Regions from separate parts of the Homo sapiens genome. Here region 1 is linked to region 2. A link means that fine-mapping ties the variant in region 2 to the plasma level of a protein whose gene starts in the linked region. Region 2 holds a variant in brackets. A gene starts in the other region. All regions are shown on one strand. Distances are between the middles of the regions.

Evidence for each region. A credible set is the group of variants that fine-mapping cannot tell apart. PIP is the posterior inclusion probability: the model's chance that the variant is causal. The UK Biobank Pharma Proteomics Project read protein levels with antibody pairs (Olink). The fine-mapping took linkage between variants from a reference panel, not from the people measured, so its PIPs are less certain.
Region 1: it holds the start of EDA2R, and the variant in region 2 is the best candidate, but not a certain one, in a credible set for the plasma level of the EDA2R protein (UK Biobank, PIP 0.51).

The regions. Positions count from the first base shown.
Region 1 is chrX:66,638,600-66,643,924 of GRCh38, forward strand. EDA2R (ectodysplasin A2 receptor) reads right to left here and starts at 479. Exons shown (of 7, transcript NM_021783.5): 1 at 396-479. RefSeq lists an enhancer at 1-299.
Region 2 is chrX:56,006,031-56,011,406 of GRCh38, forward strand. It overlaps a transcript of KLF8 not described here. Among named protein-coding and RNA genes, the nearest start is that of KLF8, 220 kb to the right of the region's middle. The variant C/T (reference allele first, on the strand shown) is at 2,419.

The DNA of each region.
Region 1 (5,325 bases), 11 Mb after region 2:
GCAGTTCTGCTTTCCTCAGGATGCTCCACAAGTCTGATCCACTGTCCCCGCCTTCACTAACACCCAGCCTCCTTCTCTTCTTTATCTCCCAACCCTAGATGCTCAAGGTTGTTGGACACGTCCAGGCATGTTCTCAGAGGCAATGCAGGTCCAGTAAGAGCCTACAGGAAATGGCTCGCCAAGATCCTAGAGATGTCAGCCCAGATCCCTGATACCTCAGAAAGCGCTCTCCGGACACAAATGGATGGACTGACAGCCAGCCACAGGGCGCCTTCCCAATTGTTCTGATTTTGCGGTACCCTAGCAGGATCATCCTGACCTGATTCTGTACTTCTGCACCTAGATGCCGCAGGTCCCAGCCGCCTTGCCACACCAGGGGGTGTTCCCACACTCACCCGGTAACGGACGAGTAGATGGCTCTTGCTCCCAAATGGGACTCCGGTACAAATCCACCTCAGCGCAGAGCACACATCTCACCCAGCCCCCTCCCGTCACCCCCCGCCCTTCACCCCGCGCCCCTCAGCCCCCGCCCCTCAGACCCGCCCATCAGCCCCGCCCCTCAGCCCCCGCCCCTCAGCCCCCAGCCTGCATACACACTCACAGTATATGAAATTCCTTGTAATCAAAGTTCCGCTTGACTCATTTCACATCCACGTGTAGCAACAACAGCCCAAACCCTCCTTTCACGGTAAGCTTACCTCTTCCGCCCCCGTGAAGTTCCTAGAGCAGCTATTGGACTGTTTGAGTGCCTAGGCGTGGCTACGAAAAGAAACTGCCTTTGAGAGGAACAATGTGAGGCTGAAGAACAGTGACCCAGCCACTGGTATGGCAGGAGCTGCAAATCTCCTGGGACTGAAGCGGGGGCCAGAGAGTAGAGGGCCAGGGAGTGGGGTCCAGAGAAAGCATCAAGTTGTCTCTTTCACAGCTGAATGCAGCTCAGCTCATCAAAGTTTATTCATGACTTAGCAGGCTTGGAGTTTGACAGGGAAAATTATTGTTGGAAAAGCCAAAATTTTCAGACACATGGAGAAGCCGCTTTCCAGCTCTGCATCTGCCTCAAAAAAATACTCCTCCATTCAGAAGGGTAGATAGGATTGTGACAGGAGGAAGAGAGCAGACATGAAGCAGGGAAAAGACCACTAAAAATAAAGGAAAATTGGATTCGGCACTCAGCTTTGATCATCCATCTTCTCTGGGCCCCTGAGTGTCTGTACAAGGAGGGGGTTGAGCTACGTAGTCTCTAAGGGCACTTCAAACAATGACACTTTGGGAGTTTATTAATCCATGATCTCAGAGGCAGCGGTGGATAAATCCCGAAACGTTACTAGTCCCTGACCTTGAAGAGTTTGCAGAGCTGGGAAGATAAAGTAGACCGGACAGAGACAGAGAATTAAGGGCCAAACTATGAGGTGCAGACTGGAAGGGTTTGGGGGCCAGTAGGAAGAAGGAGTAAAAAAGAGTCTGACAAGGAAAGCAAATGCTTTTCAATAGATTAGGAGCTTTTAAAAGAGGTCAAAGAGGAAATAGCCTAATGGGTAGAGGAAAAGAAAAGCTTGAGCCAAGGTATGGGGGAGAGGACCAAGAAATGAGCCATTATCAGTCTCTGAGGGACCCCTCCTGTACTGGGCAGAGGCTATATGCCAGCTCAGGGTGGAGTCTCAGTAAAGCAGCTGAAAAGCCTTTGGTGGGAAAGGGCTGAATAGGCCCTAAGCTGAAGTAGAAAAAGTCCTAAATGAACTTCATATCTGTCCCCTAGCTAGAGTTAAGACCAGAATAGGCTACTGTGGGCTCAGGCCTAGTAGAAGGGAAAACTGCCAGAATTGGAATCCTAGGTCTGCCCCTTACTAGCTTTGTGACCTAAGGCAAGTTACTTAACCACTCTGTGGCTCAGGATTCTCTTCTGTAAAGTGGGGAAAATAACAATCCCTTACTCATAGGATTGTTTTAGGTATTATATGAGTTAATATACAAAATAGTGTTCATATGCGTAAGGAGCTTAGAATGATTTCTGGGACGTAGTGGTATAGAAGTGTTTATTAAATATAAATAAATACATGAATGCAATTTAGGGACCTCTGAAATCATCTGTGAGATTCAAATGAAAATAGCTACCCTGGGTACCTCCTAATTCTGTTCTGTCCTTTCCTAGAAAACAGGACCTCTTCTTTTTCTCCATCCTTTCCTACCCAGAGAAGCTGAATTACAGACAGTTTTGAAACTTTAGTGTAAAGAACCCTAGCTTGGAATTTAGATGTCTTGACAAAACTAAGTGTAACATCATGTAAATCTCTTCCTCTCTCTTAGTTTTCCTTTCTGCATCTGTATCCTGAAGAGACTGTTGGACTGGATGACCTTGAAACGCTAGAGCCGTGCTTCTCTCATATTAATGTGCACACAAATCACCTAAGGATCTTGTTAAAACACAGATTCTGAGTTAGCAGCTGTGGTGTGGGACTAAGACTCTGATTTTCTAACTGCTTCCAGGTGATATTGATGGTGCTGGGCCACAGACCATAGTTTTAGTAGCAAAGGTTTAGAAGGTGGACAAGAATAACATTTACTGAGCACCTATAAATCATGCATATGTGTCCCTTTATACCTTACAACCATTCTATGAGGTTGAGGTTACCATCCTCATTTTGTAGATGAAGAGGCTCCTTGTACTCTGTGATTCTGCCTGGAAGTACAGGAGGAAACTTGAGATAGAGGTACCAGGGATATGTCAGAGTCCACAAGCTATTGTGGAAAGTGATTATAAGCAGCAAATATGAAACCACTGTCCTCCACCATAACTTGTCCAATAATACTATAACAGTTAGCTGGCCCTCACTAAGCACTTGCCAGGCACTGCTCAAATTTTTTTCATGAATTAATTCATTTTATCTTCATAATCTATGAAGCCACAATCATTAGAATTATCCTCCCCTCTCCTTTTGCTCACACCTCACATTCAACCCATCAGCACATCCTATCAGCTCTGCCTCCTGCCTCAGAGATAAACTCTGAATTTCACCAACTTCTTAGCACCTTCACTGCAACCACTCTGGTGCAAGCCACGATTACTTTTCACCTGAATTATTGCCATATCCTCCAATAGCTCTCCTTGCTCTCATGCTTACCCCACTCCAGTCAATTCTCAGCAGAGCAACCAGAATGATCCTTTTAAAAGTACATCAGTCTAAGTCTGTCCAAGCAATTCTACTGGTTGGCTTCTTATTCAGCAGAAAACCCAAAATCCTTAACTATGGTCTATAATAGTCTACAATCTATCCCACGCCATCCCATCCTCACTAACCTGCCCCTCTATCTCTGATCTCACCTCTTACCACTCGCCTTGACCACCATACCCAACCCCAACTGGCGGCCTTGATATTTTTTCCAACACTCAAAGCATGCTCAAGACTCTGGTCTTTGCACTTGCTGCTCCTTCAGCCTAGCCAATTCTTCCCCCAGATATCAGCATGGCTCCTTTTCTCACTTCCTCCATATCCCTGCTTAAATGTCACTTTATCAAAGTGGACTTTCTTGAATACCCTAGCTAGTACAAGCTAATGGGATTGCCTAGGCCTTTTGAAATCCACTGGGTAGGTGAGCTTTTTCTCAACATAGCCCCAGGACCCCCGGTGCAGTGTGGTGGTGAGTAGGGTTAAGGCTCTCAACTCTGCTCTCTGTGGGGGAGCCACTCTAGCTCCATGTGCTTGTGCAGCAGAACTAAGTTTGGATCAGCTAATTTCTTGGGGGCTTTCCACAGCCCCTCCTTTTATGATAAACAGGAGTCACTTTGTGAACCCAAACTGAGAACTATCAGTACAGAGTTTCTCTACCTACATTCTACTGCTGGAACCAGCCTAACCTGACAGCAGGATAGGCAGGACCAGCCTCCACTCTGCTTATCTCTGGGACCAGACAGATTCTGGGGCTCAGTGAGATTCAGGGCTCTCTGATGCCACCCCTCAGCTCTCTCTCAGAGGTTACTTAGGGTCACTCAGGGGAATACTGGCCTTGGCTGTGTCTCAGAGAATCCTGGGTAGCCTCTAATTCTAGTGTCCAACAATGGCAGGACCACCTTTCATGAAGGAGCTTCATGGTTATCCAGGCAGAATGGGGCCCTTATAGCTCCTCTCAAGACTGGGACCAGGGGGCAGGAAAAGAAGCTGAAAGACTAAGGGGATGCTGAGGCCTGTGGGGCAACCCCTGTAAACTCAAACATTGCTAAGGATGTCCCTGAACACAATATCAGCTTCTTGTTCTCTTTAGCCTGTGAGATGTGTGTAGATAAACTTGGCCATAAATGTTTGCTGCAGTGGTGTATACAGGCTTAGGTCTTCTGAATTAGAAAGCTGGGGTATAAGAGTTACTTCTAGCCATGGGAATTTTCAAACTTCAGCTAGATTCTAGCACAGTCCAATAGTGTTATCTCTCATTTTAAATAATCTTCTATTCCACTTGCCCAAGATGGCTTTTAAAACTCACTCTTCTTAAGTCAAGTGCTCAACACAGCTCCCAAACCCCTAGCAGATGACTTCACCTCCAGTTTCACCGAGAATGTAAAAGGGCACGAAACTTGAAGTCTAAACAACTTCTGACATCTCCACATTCAAGTTCATCCTGTTTCTTACCTCAGAGTTTCCTCCTGTCCCTCCTGTCTCCATCTGTGTTTACTCCTGTCTATTCCATTTTGCTTTATTTGTATCTTCATGGTCTTTCTTCCTCTGGCTCTTTCTCCTAAATTGTCTTTCCATTCTGAACTAAGATTAATTCTTTTCATATCCTCACCTCCACCTCTTCATTTCCAAACTCACTACATTTTGCTCTTCTCAAGGTCACCCATGATTTTCATACTATCAAACCCATGGATTCTTCTGTTTTCTTATTTGAATTATCTAAAACATCCAACATTGTCTGGATTCTTTTCTTTCTGACTCTCTTCCCTTGACTTTCATGGAACTAATGTCTTCTAGTTTCACTTATTTCTCTACAGCATTTTATGGATTCTCATTCTCCACTTGCCCCTCAAGTGCAGGGATTTTACAGAGTTCCTCCCACCCTCCATTGTCCCTCTGGCCTGATTCTAACTTCTCTCACTGGAGTGTGAACCTATGTGGCAGGGACCTTATATACCATTTCACAAATTTCCACATGCAAAACTGTACCTAGAGTATTTTAAGCGCTCAATACATTTTTACATATTATATATATCAATATATCTGTTGAATAAGCCCAAGGAGAAAAATGTTCACATTTGAATGTATCCTTCTATAATGAGCTCCCAGGCCTCAGGTGTGCCACAATAAAAATAAGATGGCTAAAAAGGAATTGAAACCC
Region 2 (5,376 bases):
TCTTACACACAAGGCTGTCCTGCTCTCTCCAGGTTCAACAGTCCCCTTAAGGCTAAAGTCTCCTAGAGGAATATAGCAACCTTTGGGACTTACACATCCCTGGCCATGCTCCACTGCAGGCATTTCCACACCAGACCCTCTGGAATCTCCACAGCCTGGAGTCCTGCTCCTACTATCTGTCTAAGTCGCTGTGCTGCCAGCTGAAGTGTCTGTAGTGGTTGTGAGGTCTCCTGCTGCCAGGATTCCAGAGGTCCATGGTGAAAGTAGGTTGCTCCTCACCTGTTTAACTCACCCCTTCCCCAGGAGTTGCTGCAATCCAGGAACAAGTCCCAGTGCATGGTAGCTCTGTACATGGTTTCTATCATCTTCCCCCTTCATCCTAGCATCTTTGTCCTTGCTACATCCATTCTCAAGGCTTCACTCTGAAGATCTGCTCAGAGTGTACCAATCTTTCTGATGTCTGTTTCTTGATGGCAGATGTACTTCCTGGCTGCATCTAGTCTCCTATCTTGAATCCAGAATCTCACTGTGGTTTTGATTTGCAATTCTGTAATGATTATTGGTGTTGAGAATTTTTTATATGTCTGTTGGACATTTGTGAGTCTTCTTTTGAAGAATGTTTATTCGGATTATTTGCCCACTTTTAAATGGGATTATTTGTATTTTTGCTCTTGAGTTTTTTTGGTATCTTAGTATATTCCAGATATTAGTCACTTGTTGGATTCATAGTTTGCAAATATTTTCTTCCATTCTACAGGTTGTCTCTTCAGTCTGTTGACTGTGGCAGGTTGACAGGGCCTGTTGTTAGGCTTTCCTATTGTGCACATGTGTACCAGTGTCAACAGGCAGGCTGGGTCGTTTCCCAGGCCCCCGGATAGCAGATAGTGTGCTTGGGTGTCAGTGTCAGTGGGCAGGGTGGGCCTGTTCTCAGGCCCCTCACTGTGCCTGGGCAAGCTGGTCCCAGGATTCATGAATGTACATGTAGACAAATGGCTTCCTTGCTGCTAGTGGTCAGTGGGGATGCCATCAGTGGCAGCAGCCCTAGGCAAGTGGCTCTCAGGATCTGGTTACTGCATATTTTAGCTCCATATGTCCCAGAGGCAGCCTATCCAGTGCACTGCTAGAGTTCTGAGTATCTGGCTGCATTTATGGGTCCAGCCAGTGTCATAATGTTGCATTCCTCTGAGTGGGCATGAGAGGATGTCTGCAGGGCTTTTGGGATGTAGAGATGCAGGGTCTGTTGGGTCCCAGAGCAGGATGTAGTCTGGTGGGAGTCGTACTCTCAAAATGGCGCTGTGAAGCAGCTGCTTGGGTCCCAGAGTTGTATGTGGAACCCAGCACACACTCCTCTGGAATAATGCCAGGGTGTAGGCTTTAGGTAACTCCCTATACTCAGGGCCTGCAACAGCTGAGGGCTTCTCCATGGCTAGGATTACAGGAGTCTGTGGTGGGAACCTGAACCACTGGGGATCTCTTGCTTGCTTTTCTTCCACACTGGGGAGTTCTTTTTGACTCTGCACTACTTTGCGTCCCTCTCCTTCCATGCCTTAGAGGTTTCCTGTCACTGCTTTGCTAAATTCCAGTGTTCTCTCTTAAACTCTGTCTTTGACATGTGATTATCTACTTGCTGTTTTTGTACTTCTCCGTGGATGAGTTGGGTGCTGGGTGCCTGTAGTAAACCATCTTTGAAAAAAACGTTTTCAAATACATAAAGTACAATGCATTAGACTAAAAAAGGGACCCATTTTATGGAAATATACTTACCAAATCATTTTAAAGTTTGTGATAGAATAATGTGATTCTTAGCTAAGGGATGCTGGGCTTAATACCTAGGTGATGGGATGATTTGTTCAGCAAACCACCATGGCAAATGTTTACCTGTGTAACAAACCTGAAGATGTACCCCTGAACTTAAAAGTTGAAGAAAAAAAATGTGATTTTTTTATTAAGTTCATTCAATAGGAAGATATTTCAGTGAGCCTAGTAGTTACTATAATCTAAAATTACTAATGAGCATAAGCAATATTTTGAGATTACTCTAATAACTAATATGTTATGCAAATAACTGGAATTTTATTAGTGCAAAGCTATATATATATATATATATACACACACAAATACAATTAATTGTAACATTTTGCCTACATGCATAATTAAAAGAAATGCTAAATTTCAATTAGTGAAAATAAAAATGGGGGGAGGTGGCCAAGATGGCCCTCTAGAAACAGCTTTGGTAGGAGGCTCCCACTGAGAAGAATGAAAACAGCAAGTGAATTCTGCACCAGCAACTGAAGTATCCAGGTTCTCTTGCTGGGACTGACGAGGCAGTTAGCATGACCCATGGAGAATAAGGAAAAGCAGGGTGGACTGATGGCCCACCCGGGAGCCACGTGGGGCAAGGGGAACTCCCACCCGCAA[C/T]GAAGGGAGGCAGTGAGCAATTGTTCTATCCCACATGGGAAACCACATTTTTCCTTCCACGGATTTGTGCAACCCACAGATCAGGAGATCCCCTCATGAGCCCATGTCACCAGGGCCTTGTGTCCCAAGCAGACATCTGTACAGATTATCAGTGGCCACTTGGCTGGGGACTGCCTGACTACTGAGTTCCCATGAGGAGAGGTGACGGCCATCACTGCAATTGCCTGCTGCCTGAGATGACTGAGCTCCTGGGGTGAAGGGCAGCACCCTCACTGCAGCTCCAGTCTGCCATTTTTTCCTGCTGGTGCCAGGGAGACTGGGCAGTTTGGAACCAGGAGGAATTCTCCACAGCACAGCACAGTGGCTGTGGCAGATCGTGGCCAGACTGCCTCTTTAGGCCAGACTCTGATCCGTCCTAACTCACTGGGCTGGTTCTCCCTGCAGAAACTTCAGCAACTCCAGCCAGGGTTTTGCAGACAGAAGTCTGATCTCTCTGGGACAGAGGCCCTAGAAGGAGTGGCAGCCATGGATGCCATGGATTAGTCGACTGAGTCTTTCCTCCTGCTGGCTCTGAAGAATCTAGGCAGTACGGAGAAGCAACATTACCCCCAGCACCAAGGGGCAACCAGAGGGCTTATTTAAGCTGGTCCCTGATCCCATGCCTCCCCAACTAGGCCACTCTAGGTGGTCCCCTAGATCACCCCAAAAGGGGTCTCTAGGCATCTTATACAGGAGTGTTCCTGCTGGTATCCTGTCAGTGCCAGTCTGGGACGGAGCTCCCAGAGGAAGGAGCAGGCAGCCATCTTTTCTGTTCCTCAGCCTCCACTGATGACACCTCCAGGTGTGGGAGGAACCCAGGTGAATAGGTTCTGGAGTGGACCCCTAGCAAACTTCAGCAGGCCTGTGGAAGAGAGGCCTGACTGTTAAAAGAAAAACAAAGAAACAGAAAGCAACAACAACATCATCAACAAAAAAAAAAGTCCTCACAAAAACCTCATCCAAAGGTCAGCAGCCTCAAAGATGAAAGCTAAATATAAACTCATGAAGATGAGAAAGAATTAATGAAGAAACACTGAAAACCAAAAAAGCCAGAGTGACTTTTCTCCTCCAAATGATCACAACACCACTCCAGCATGGACACAGAACTGGTTAGAGGCTGTAATGGATGAATTGACAGAAGTAGGCTTCAGAAGGTGAGTGATAATGAATTTTGCTGAACTAAAAAAGCATGTTTTAACCCAATGCCAAGAATCAAAGAAACATGAAAAAAATTACAGGAGCTGTTAACCAGAATAACCAGTTTAGAGAAGAACATAAATGACCTGATGGAACTGGAAAACACAGCACAGAAACTTCACAATGCAACCACAAATATCAATAACCAACTAGTCCAACCAGAGGAAAGAATTTCAGATTTTGAAGACTATCTTGCTGAAATAAAACAGGCAGACAAGATTGGAGTAAAAATAATGAAAAGGAATGAACAAAACTTACCAGAACTATTGAATTATGTAAAAAAACCAAACCTATGACTGATTGGGGTACCTGAAAGAGATGGAGAGAATGGAGCCAAGTTGGAAAACATACTTTAGAATATTATCCAGGAGAACTTCCTCAACCTAGCAAGACAGGCCAACATTCAAATTCAGGAAACACGGAGAACCTCAGTAAGATATTCCATGAGAAGATCAACCCCAAGACACATAATCATCAGATTCTCCAAGGCTGAAATGAACGAAAAAAATGTTAAGGGCAGCCAGAGAGAAAGGCCAGGTCACCTACAAATGGAAGCCCATCAGATTAAAGGCAGACCTGTCAGCAGAAGCCCTACAAGCCAGAAGAGATTGGGGGCCAATACTCAACATTCTTAAATAAAAGAATTTTCAACCCAAAATTTCATATTCAGTCAAACTAAGCTTCATCAGCAAAGGAGAATTAAAATCCTTTTCAGACAAGCAAATGCTGAGGGAATTTGTCAGCTCTAAGCCTGCCTTGCAACAGCTCCTGAAGAAAGCACTAAATATGGAAAGGAAAAGCCATTACCAGCCACTACAAAAACACAATGAAATACAATGACCAGTGACACTGTGAAGCAACTACATCAACAAGTCTGCAAAATAACCAGCTAGCATCATGATGACCAGATCAAATTCACACATAACAATATTAACCTTTAATGGAAATTGGCAAAATCCCCCAAGTAAAAGGCACAGAATGGGAAGGTGGATAAAGAGTCAAGACCCATGGTGTGCTGAATTCAAGAGACCCATCTCACTTGCAAAGACATGCATAGGCTCAAAATAAAGGGATGGAGGAAAATTTACCAAGTAAATGAAAAGCAGATAGAAGCAATCTGTTGCAATCTTAGTTTATGACCAAACAGACTTTAAACAACAACAACAACAACAAAATCAAGAAAGAGAAAGAAGGGCATTACATAATGGTAAAGGGATCAATTCAACAAGAAGAGCTAATTATCCTAAATATATGTGTATCCAACACAGGAGCACAGATTCATGAAAGAAATTCTTGGAGACCTATAAAGAGACTTGGACTCCCACACAATAATACTGGGAGAGTTTTACATGCCACTGACAATATTAGACAGATCATTGAGTCAGAAAATTAACAATGATATTCAGGACTTGAACTTAGCTCTGGATCAAGTGGACCTGATGGATATCTACAGAACTCTCTACCCAAAAACAACAGAGTATGCATTGTTTTTAGTGCCACATGGCACTGACTCTAAAATTGATCACATAATTGGAAGTAAAACACTCCTCCACAAATACACAAGAACTAAAATCTTAACAAACAGTCTCTCAGACCACAGGACAATCAAATTAGCACTCAAGATTGAGTAATTCACTCAAAACCACACAACTACTTGGAAATTGAACAACCTGCTCCTGAATGCCTCCTGGGTAAATAATGAAATTAAGGTAGAAAAGAAGA